Homo sapiens: one gene and its partners. The protein of the gene in region 1 purifies or fractionates together with the protein of each later gene. This does not show direct contact. Each region holds a gene or a part of one and is shown in the gene's direction. Other genes may lie near its edges.

What was found.
Region 2: the proteins of APPL2 (region 1) and ACOT9 fractionate together in Homo sapiens (co-fractionation; one large-scale study listed by BioGRID). This does not show direct contact.
Region 3: the proteins of APPL2 (region 1) and SOS1 purify together in Homo sapiens (co-immunoprecipitation; one study listed by IntAct). This does not show direct contact.

What each region holds. Positions count from the first base shown.
Region 1 is NC_000012.12:105,194,675-105,198,174, reverse strand, and holds part of APPL2 (DCC-interacting protein 13-beta), read left to right. Parts: intron 1-221; coding exon 222-410; intron 411-2,547; coding exon 2,548-2,590; intron 2,591-2,648; coding exon of another isoform or gene 2,649-2,673; coding exon 2,674-2,730; intron 2,731-2,825; coding exon 2,826-2,914; intron 2,915-3,500. UniProt on the Homo sapiens protein: Multifunctional adapter protein that binds to various membrane receptors, nuclear factors and signaling proteins to regulate many processes, such as cell proliferation, immune response, endosomal trafficking and cell metabolism.
Region 2 is NC_000023.11:23,729,742-23,733,470, reverse strand, and holds part of ACOT9 (acyl-coenzyme A thioesterase 9, mitochondrial isoform a precursor), read left to right. Parts: intron 1-253; coding exon 254-299; intron 300-2,484; coding exon 2,485-2,655; intron 2,656-2,906; coding exon 2,907-2,944; intron 2,945-3,729. UniProt on the Homo sapiens protein: Mitochondrial acyl-CoA thioesterase. Catalyzes the hydrolysis of acyl-CoAs into free fatty acids and coenzyme A (CoA), regulating their respective intracellular levels. Regulates both mitochondrial lipid and amino acid metabolism.
Region 3 is NC_000002.12:39,110,869-39,114,597, reverse strand, and holds part of SOS1 (son of sevenless homolog 1), read left to right. Parts: intron 1-3,729.

The sequences.
Region 1 (3,500 bases):
GGTGTCTCCCTTGGAAGCAGAGCCCATGATCTCCCAGATCATTCCAGCTAAATTGTACCCTTCTGCTGCTCTTTCCACTTGAATGGGCAGTTTTGCTTTAACGATATAAAGAAACACATTATTTCTAAAATGCCACCAGTACCCATAACGAGGTAGCAAGACTTGGAGGTGGCCGCTGGTGCTTTCTGGTACTAATGGGCTTTTTAAAACACAACTCACAGCAAAACAGGGCTGGTCACCACCACCTGGGAGAGGCTTTATTTCTTCACCCAAGGCGGGAATCTCATGTGTCAGCCCAGGGGAGCCGTGGCTGGAGGTTTGATCCAGGACCTGGACAACTGCTCAGTGATGGCCGTGGATTGCGAAGACCGGCGCTACTGCTTCCAGATCACCACGCCCAATGGAAAATCGTATGTTTCACGCGTTTTATTTGGGAGGAGAATGAGTATAGTGGTTCCACCCGTTCCAAGGGCCTCCTAGTTCATTCCTATGTGCCAGCCCTCTGTGGGAGAGGCCCCAATCTGGGTATTGTTGACCTTTCAGGAGGATGATTTTCTGCTCTCTTTAAACAAGCCCGCATGACCCATAAGGGATCCAGCCTGCCTTATCCCATATGGAGATAAGTGAGGGTTTGTCTGTGGCTTTGGAGAAGAGATGACCTACGTGTGTGAGACAGCAACAGAAGTCGTGCTTGTTAGCATAGATTCTCAGAGAGAGAAGGCTGTGGCTACTCCTAGCCTGTTGTAAAGAAGCATTTGTGTTTGGATTGCAGCAGGGGAGAGTAACTATTTTGGTAAGGACGACCTTCCTGAGAAGGCCATTTTTCCAGCAGAAGCAGGAGTTGTGAGAAGTGTACTCCACTGCAGCAGCATCGTCGGCTGCCAGGCTGTTCCCACATGTCCTGTGTACCTGAGGGGCCCCAAAGAGGTGGTACTTTACCAATCCGCAGGCTGTGGCCATTCACAGTAGATCCCATCCCAGTGGGATCCCCTCTCAGAGTGGTGGTTTTTAAACTGCTCCAAGGAGTTCAGGGTCCCATGGAGGGGCTTCAGGGTCCCATGGAGGGGCTTCAGGGTTCACCTGCCTGGGGAGAGGAGTGGCCCTGCCCGTCATCAGAGCCGCTCTTCTCACACTGCATTCTATTAAGATTTGACCTGAACAGCAGGGGTAGGGGTGGGGACGGCATTGGGATGATGTCTCTCCTCCCAGCTTGGCAGAGCAGCTTTAGACCTCATCCTTCCTGCTTTGGTGATGGGAAATGACCTGGGAATGGAGATTCCTGGATGCTCATCATGGTCCTTTGCAGTTACCTCCTCTGGGCCTCACTTTCCTCAGATATAAAATAGGGATAAGATCTATGTTACTCCATCTGCCACAGATGAGAGGAACAAGGGAACTGGCAGATGTGGGGTCTCTTTAAAAAGTTAAAGCCTCGGCTGGGTACAGTGGCTCACGCCTATAATCCCAGCACTTTGGGAGGCCGAGGCAGGTGGATCCCCTGAGGTTGGGAGTTTGAGATCAGCATGACCAACATGGAGAAACCCCGTCTCTACTGGAAATACAAAATTGGCCGGGCACGTTAGTGGTGGCGCATGCCTGTAATCCCAGCTACTCAGGAGGCTGAGGCAGGAGAATCGCTTGAACCTGGGAGGCGGAGGTTGTGGTGAGCCGAGATCACACCATTGCACTCCAGCCTGGTGCAACAAGAGCAAAACTCCATCAAAAAAAAAAAAAAAAAAAAAAAAAAAAGAGTTAACGCCTCCACAAAGGTAGGGCAGTATTACTGTTACCTTATTCCCGGGCCTCCATACGCAGCAGACTTTTCAGTTCTGGGAAAGGAGTGAATGGGCTGCCAAGTCCTTCTTTGGGCATGGTTTGAGGAGTGGCTGGGCTTGGAGTCCTGGTCATCTTGGATCATTAGAGGAGGTCAACAGGTGGATCTCACTGTACAAACACAGATTTGGGCTAGAAGATCCGAGTCCCGCCTTCTCATTTCATAGATGAACATGCTGAGGCCCAGGGAAACGGCCATGTTTGTCCAAGATCACATAGTGAATCAGGGCAGAGCCAGACCTACAAGCCCATTTTCTTTTTTCTTTTTCTTTTTTTTTTTTTTGTTTGAGATAGGGCCTTGCCCTATCACCCAGGCTGGAGTGCAGTGGCACAGTCACCACTCACTGCAGCCTCAGCCTCCTGGGCTCGATCGATCCTCCCACTTCAGCCTCTCTAGTAGCTAGGACTACAGGCACACGCCACCACGCCCAGCTAATTTTTGTATTTTTTGTAGAGAGGGGGTTTCACCATGTTGCCCAGGCTGGTCTCGAACTCCTGGGCTCAAGCCATCCTCCTGCCTCACCTTCCCAAAATGCTGGGACTGCAGGCATGAGCCACTGCACCTGGCCCTGGAACCCCATTTTCTTTCCCTCTCATCATGCTGCCTTCATGGCACTTTTCCTCCCACACCCCAGCTAAGTTCAGTTTATGTAGAGAAATTCCCAGTCACTGAGATCAGGGAAGCACTTAATTACTTAGACACTTTTGTTTCAGGGGAATAATCCTCCAGGCTGAGAGCAGAAAGGAAAATGAAGAGGTAAAAATTTTGTTTGTCATATTTCTTTCCTAACGTGGTGGGTGACTTTGGGATTCAGTGTTCTTTTTTAATGTCCTCTACAGTGGATATGTGCAATAAACAACATCTCCAGACAGATCTACCTGACCGACAACCCTGAGGTAATTATCAGCCACCGGCATCTCAGCCCTTTTCTCAACCTGGAAGGTAAGCGTCCACCTCCTGGGACTGAGTGTGTCTTCCTGTGGATTTTTAGGCAGTCGCGATCAAGTTGAATCAGACCGCTCTGCAAGCAGTGACTCCCATTACAAGTTTTGGAAAAAAACAAGAAAGCTCATGCCCCAGGTAACTAAAGGACAAAGAAAAACTAGCTTTTGTGGAGCCAAATTATTGATTAGGAATACGAAATGAGTTGTTGCTTAATCCACACAAACCAAGGCATGTTTTTCAGCCTGTTTAACAGAAGCAGTAACGATGGCTGGGAAAGGTTAAATACCTGCCTGTGTTCACACCACATTGTGAGTGGTAGAGCCAGGATTCAAGCCTGTCTGATGTCAGCATCCCTGTCCTTTCCACTGGACCATGCTGCTGCAGTCCAAGCAAACAGGACGTGCATGGAGGGTCCTCCTAGTCAGGAGTTCTCCCCACATTTTCTATCAGTGTCAACAAAGTAAGGGAACGAAAGCAAAAATGTTTTTAAAAAATAAGGAAAAAAAAATCGCCTTTTATGTATCCCATGTTAATGTCCACGCCTTATCTGAACATACAGTGATAGTTTTATATGTACATTTATTTTGTATTTGCACATACTTTTTTTTTTTTTAACTATTTCTACATTTTTCAGAATTGTTCCTTTTAGTAACTACACCCTATTCCATCATTTATTTTTTTACTTACTTATTTTTTAATTTTTTCGAGACGGAGTCTCACT
Region 2 (3,729 bases), on another chromosome or scaffold:
TATAAACCCTAGTGATTGGCACAAAGGTATTCATTTGTGCACCTTTAAAGAGACAGTATAGTTCTTTCAGGTTTTTAGGGAGCAGAGGCTTGATCCTGTCCCTGAGCTGTTTGTTGTGGCATTAAATGGAAATCTATGGATCTTTAAATCTTTTGAGTGCATGAATTGCTTTTTGTAGTTCTTGAGCTCATTGCCATAATCCGTTTCTCATATTTCTTTGTTTCATGGAATGACCTCTTTATTTTTGTTTCAGTTCGAGATAAGTTGCGGGAGATAGTAGGAGCATCCACAAACTGGAGGTATGCATCTTTGTTTTCATTCATTCTTTTCATCCCCAAGGTATTATACTACACTGTATTTAGGCTCAGTTGATGGTCTCACAGTGGGGATGGGGAGCCCTATGTTCAGAGATAGGTTGAGAAGTATTTTGCTTGGGGGAGAAGGTCAACATTTCAACATACTCATCAGATGACACCTCATTGTCATGAAAGAAGATGATTTACGTATATTCTGCATTTTCAAAGTGCATTTAGGTGTATATTACTTCACTGATTCTCATAACAAAACTTGTGACGTGCTTACGACATATGTTCCTGTTCCTTTTTTTACACATGAAACTGAAACTCAGAGATTGAATGATTAAATGTCAGGGTTTGGGACTTGAACCCAAGTCGCTAAGTTTCTCTGTTTCATGCAACTTGACTCCTTTATTGCTTCTTGTCAGTTCAAAATTAGTCAGGCCTCCCATATTGTCTTTCTCTTTCTCGCAGTATTTCCTTGTTGTAAAGTAGGATCATATCCCTCTTGGTGTACATAATTTTGAGGCTAAAATGAGATAGAAAAAACACGAGTGATCACTAGATATATAATAATCTATTGTTGGTATAGAAATTATCTAATGACTTATTTTTAAATTCTTTATATGAAAAATTTCACTTTACTAAAAGGTAGAAAGAATGAATACCTGTGTACCCACCACCTGGATTCCATACTTATTAATATTTTGCCAAATTTTCCAATATACACATATTGCCTGAACCATTTCTAAGTAAATTATAGACACCATGACACTTCAGCGTGCATCTTCAGTAAACATTTTATAAAACCAGCCTTCGCTTATCTCCAACAAATAAGACATTCTCTCATGTAATCAAATTGACAGCAATTCCTTGCTAGTATATTACTCATCCATAGTCACATTTCCTCAACTGTTACCATTTTGTGTAATAGATTACTCCTTTTAACAAAAATGTTTTTATAGCTGTTTAAAAAACATCAAGATCCAATAAAGGATTGCATGTTGCATCTGGTGGTTATGACTCTTTAGTCTTCCCTAATCTAGAGTAATGGACAGTCGTCCTTCCCCTATTCTTCCCCCATGAGCTTGACTTTAAGGAGGCCAAGCCATTTGTCTTGAGAATGTTCCACATTCTGGATTTACTGGTGTCATTTAACTCATTCCTCTATCTCCTGTAGTTTTTGTAGGGTAAACATTTCTGGAAATAATACTTTATAAGTTAAGCTTAGAAAGACATCTTAGCTAATGTTCTTATCAACATTGTCGTTCCGTATCCCCTTGTCTTTCTTTTCTCTTTCACCTTAATCTTCTCTTCTTTTTCTTCCCTTTCTGTCTCCTTTTCATGTTATGTTCTTCTTTACCTTTTGTTCTGCCTTCCATACTTCCTTTGGATATAGTCCATTTTCCCTCCTCTGTCTCTCTTTCCTGAAATTGAAGGCAGAGAGAGAGAGAGAACTGGGGCTCAAAGAATCCGAGAACTGTCAGGTGAGAAATGGGAATATAAAGTAGAGTGGCCAAGCCATTCTTTAGCATATATATTTATATGTATATATATATACTATTTTGTCCATCTCTCTAAATTTTTAATTTAATTTCAAATATTCTGGTCTTTGAGTAAACTTTTTGATAAGGGTGAATATATGGCTCATTTGGGTATATCTATATCAGTTTTAAGTTTTCTTTTTTTTTTTTTTTTTTGAGACAGTCTTGCTCTGTTGCCCAGGCTGGAGTGCAGTGGTGTGATCTTGGCTCATTGCAACCTCCGCCTCCCACGTTCAAGCAATTCTCCTGCCTCAGCCTACCAAGTAGCTGGGATTACAGGTGCCCACCACCACACCTGGCTAATTTTTTGTATTTTTAGTAGAGACGGAGTTTTGCCATGTTGGCCAGGCTGGTCTTGAACCCCTGACCTCGTGTGATCCACCCGCCTTGGCCTCCCAAAATGCTGGGATTACAGGCGTGAGACACTGCACCTGGCCTTAAGAATGTTTTTAAGCTTGAGAAATGATACCGGAAATGATCAATTTCACCAAGTGGCAGGTGGGAAGGGAGGGAAGGAAGAGAAGGTGAAAGTAGGCCCAGACCTTCTTTTTCCTCCTTTGATGGTATCTTACTGGCCTGTGTACCACTGGAATTGTGGGCTAGAACTGCTCTTGTTTTATGAATCCTGCATCCTTTCTTCTCAGAGACCATGTGAAGGCAATGGAAGAAAGGAAATTACTTCATAGTTTCTTGGCTAAATCACAGGATGGACTGCCTCCTAGGAGAATGAAGGACAGTTATATTGAAGTTCTCTTGCCTTTGGGCAGTGAGCCTGAATTACGAGAGAAATATTTGACTGTTCAAAACACCGTAAGGTAACACAGTGCTATTTTTATGTATTTGTTTTTATTTCCTTGTTTTATAACAATTTTGAAATATAATTCACACACCATACAATTCGCCTGTTTAAAGTGTACAGTTCCATGGTTTTGATATATTTAGAGAGTTGTGCATCCATCACCACAGTCAATTTTAGAACATTTTCATCACCCTGAAGTGTGTTATTTATTTTTAAAGGGAGACCAACATGATTTGCATTTAATTCACTGTTTGCTTTATTTCACAGATTTGGCAGGATTCTTGAGGATCTTGACAGCTTGGGAGGTACTGGTATTATTTTAGTCTTTCTAATAGATACCTACAGATATACATTGAATTCTGTGACTGGAAAGGGCTCTTTTATTCTTTAACCTGCACAGATGATGATATTCTAAAGTGCACAAAAAAAGAAGGACATCGGCCGGGCGTGGTGGCTCATGCCTGTAATCCCAGCACTTTGGGAGGCTGAGGCGGGCGGATCACTTGAGGTTGGGAGTTTGAGACCAGCCTGACCAACATGGAGAAACCCCGTCTCTACTAAAAATACAAAATTAGCCAGTTGTGTTGGTGGGCGCCGTAATCCCAGCTACTTGGGAGGCTGAGGCAAGAGAATCACTTGAACCTGGGAGGCAGAGGTTGCGGTGAGCTGAGATCGTGCCATTGCACTACAGCCTGGGTAACAAGAGTGAAACTCCATCTCCAAAAAAAAAAAAAAAAAATGGCATCTACTACTTCTGAATTGTCATAATTTTTTTCTTATAAATGTAGATTCCTATTTAATGGAGGTATAGTCTGAATAATCTTTCTTACTAGTAACTTTAAAAAAAGAAAGTCTTAAACTTACAGAAAAGTTGCAAATACAGTATAAAGAATTTTTCTGTGGCCAGGCGCGGTGGCTCACGCCTATAATCCCAGCACTTTGGGAGGCTGAGGCAGGCAGATCACAAGGTCAGGAGATCGAGACCATCCTGGCTAACATGGTGAAACCCCATCTCTACTAAAAATACAAAAAATTAGCCAGGCGTGGTGGCATACGCCTGTAGTCCCAGCTATTCAGGAGGCTGAGGCAG
Region 3 (3,729 bases), on another chromosome or scaffold:
GGGCCAGGTGGCTCACGCCTGTAATCCCAGCACTTTGAGAGGCTGAGGCGGGGGATCACCTGAGGTCAGGAGTTCGATACCAGCCTAACCAACATGGAGAAACCCCATCTCTACTAAAAATACAAAATTAGCTGGGCGTGGTGGCGCATGCCTGTAATCCTAGCTACTCAGGAGGCTGAGGCAGGAGAATTGCTTGAACCCAGGAGGCAGAGGTTATGGTGAGCTGAGATTGTGCCATTGCACTCCAGCTTGGGCAACAAGAGTGAAACTCCATCTCAGAAAAAAAGAAAAAAAAAAAAGAAAAGAACAAAAAGAAAAACAAAAAACAAAAAAAATTAGCCAGGCTTGGTGGCACGCACCTGTGGTCCTGGCTACTCAGGAGGCTGAGGTGGGAGGATTGCCTGAGCCTGGGATGTTGAGGCTGAGGTGAGCCATGATCGTGCCATTGCACTGCCGTCTGGGTGACAGGGTAAAACCCTGTCTCAGAAAAAGAAAGAAACAAAAATAGAAAGAAAAGAAAGAGTCATTGATCATACCAGGCTATAGAAAAGTCAAAGGGCCTGAAAAGTGTTAAGTTTGGCAGCTAAGGGGTCATTGGTCACTATGTCAGAGCAGTTTTATTGTGATAGTAGAAGATGGAAGAACATGGGAAAAGTAAGAATAGCAAGGGCTGCTGACCTTTTTGCTCAGATTATTTTTTTCTAGAAGCTTGGAAAGGAAGGGAAAAGAGATAGTGCTGAGGCAAAAAAGAGATTCAAGATTGGGTAAGACATTTTTGCTTCTTGCTTGGAGATGACAAAAACTTACTAAGAGCCTTTGAGGAAGGAGCTAATAGAGAATGCTGGTGAAGATTCAGGAACACAAAGCAATGGGATTTGCCTTGAACTGTTTGGGAGATAAGGTAAGCACTTCACCTGTGTTCTCATTTAATTCTCATAGGATACTATTACGGCTTCCTTTTTACAGGAGAGAAAATCAAGGTTTGGAAAGTTAAATTTGCCCATGTAATTTAGTTACAGAATCTTTATTTTTATTTTTAAAATTATTTTATTTATTTATTTTTGCACCATGGCCTCCCTCCCCCAACTCTAAAATCTGTATTTTTAAACACTATATTGCTGGGCATGGTGGCTCATGCTATTGACGCCAACACTTTGGGAGGCCAAGGCAGGAGGAGTTTGAGAACAGCCTAGGCCACATAGTGAGACCCTGTCTCTACAAGGGAAAAAAAAAAAAAAAAGAAGACAGGTATGGTGGTACATGCCTGTAGTCTCAGCTACTCAGGAGGCTGAAGTGGGAAGATTGCTTGAGCTCAGGTGTTTGAGGCTGCAGTGAGCTATGATTGGGCTACTGCACTCCAGCCTGGGTTACAGAGTGAGACTGTGTCTCTAAATACATTAATGAATAAAACACTAAGTGATGCTACCTCTGGCAGGGGTGATGACATCTTTTCTTATGAGATACAGGAGGGAAAGTGATAAAGATGGGTTTGTAGGTTGGGGAGCAGGGAGTTCATGCTAAATAATCACTTCTATTTTCTTTTCTTTTCTTTTTTTTTTTTGAGACAGAGTCTTGCTCTTGTCGCCCAGGCTGGAGTGCAGTGGTGTGATCTCCGCTCACTGTAGCCTCCACCTCCCAGGTTCCAGCAACTCTGCCTCAGCCTCCCCAGTAGCTGGGATTACAGGCGCACTCCATCACACGCAGCTAATCTTTTGTGTTTTAGTAGAGACAGGGTTTTACCATGTTGCCCAGGCTGGTCTTGAACTCCTGAGCTCAGGCAGTCTGCCCGCCTCGGCCTACCGAAGTGCTGAGATTACAGGCATGAGTCACTGCACCTGGCCAAATCACCTCCATTTTCATGATGAAATGAAAGGCAAATTTTTTTTACAGAGTGAAGAAAAGGAAAGTAGTAAGGACTTTAGAAGGAATAATGAAGTCTGGGAATTGCTGCTGTGGAGTGTAGAGGAGCCAACCAGTGCCTTAGAAAGGAATTGCAAGCCAGGTGCGGTGGCTCATGCCTGCAATTCCAGCACTTGGGAGCCTGAGGTGAGAGGATCACTTGAAACCAGGAGTTCAAGACCAGCCTGGGCAACATGGTGAAACACCGTCTCTACCAAAAAACAAAACAAAACAAAAGCCTGGCATGGTGGTACGCACCTGTAGTCCCAGCCACTTGGGAGACTGAGGTGGGAGGATCCCTTGAGCTCAGGAGGCTGATGCTGCAGTGAGCCATGGGAAAGAAAGAGCAAGAGAGAGAGGGAGAGAGAGGAATTGCTCAGCAGTGCTGAATGTGGAGACCATAAACTCAGAGTAGGGTTGATCTGGTGGTTGTGAGATTTTCCTCCAATAGCGCTTATCTGTTCAGGTAAGCCGGGAGAGAAGACAGTTGGTTGCAGGTAGCGGCAGTAGAGATTAAGAAGATAGGGATATTTCAAGTGATAGAGAGGAAGTAAGGGTATATAAGAGAAATAATGGATTGGAAGAAAAATTAGGGCTCCATGGATTCAAAATCTTGGTGAGTTAGAAGAGAAGGATAGTGGGAGTAGATAGGGGATGTGATTAGAGATGATGACAATTGTTATATTTTGGAGTTTTAAGATTCCAGAGATAGAGGCCAAGGAGGGCAGATCACTTGAGCTCAGGAGTTCAAGACCAGCCTGGCCAACATGGCAAAACCTCACTTCTACCAAAAATACAAAAATTATCTGGATGTGGTGGTGTGTGCCTGTAGTCCCAGCTGTTCGGGAGGCTGAGGTAGGAGAATCGCTTGAAACCTGGAGGTGGAGGTTGCAGTGAGCTAAGGTTGTGTCACTGCACTCCAGCCTGGGCAACAAGAGCGAAACTCCGTCTCAAAAAAAGAAAAAAAAAAAAAAAGGATTCCAGAGATGAAGCAGGTAAGACAATTAGGAGCTCTAAAGTTGATGTATTGGGTTGCATATGGGAATGATGATGAAGTCCACAGAGATTATGGAGTGTACTGTAGCAGAGAGGGAGACTGTATTCTAGGAGTGGCAGGAAGGTCCAGAAGTAACAGCAGTAAGGATGTTTTAAACAAATAATAGTAAAAGTGGCAACTACTTCTCACCTCCTCTGATGTAGTATTTATTACAGCTATAGACAAAATAGGAAGAAACTTTGTACTTCATTTTAGAATTTTGTCTTGTGATAAAGTTTTTACCCTAACATTTTGTCATGAAGATTTTTCAATACACAGAAAAGTCTAAAGAATTGTACAGTAAACACTCGTATACCCATCACCCAGATTTTATAATTAACATTTTATTACAATTTTATTATGTTTGCTCTATGGCATGCCTATCCATCCCTTCATCCTTGAATCCATCTTATTATTATTATTTTTTTTTGAGATGGAGTCTTGCTCTGTCTCCCAGGCTGGAGTGCAGTGGCACAATCTCGTCTCACTGTAACCTCCGCCTCCTGGGTTCAAGTGATTCTCCTGCCTCAGCCTCCCGATTAGCTGGGATTACAGGCATGTGCCACCACACCTGGATAATTTTTGTATTTTTATTACAGACAGGGTTTCGCCATGTTGGCCAGGCTGGTCTCAAACTCTTGACCTCAGGTGATCCACCTGCCTCGCCCTCCCAAAGTGGGATTACAGGCATGAGCCACCATGCCTGGCCCATTTTTGTATTTTTAATAGAGATGGGGTTTCTCCATGTTGGCCAGGCTGGTCTTGAATTCCTGACCTGAAGTGATCTACCCGCT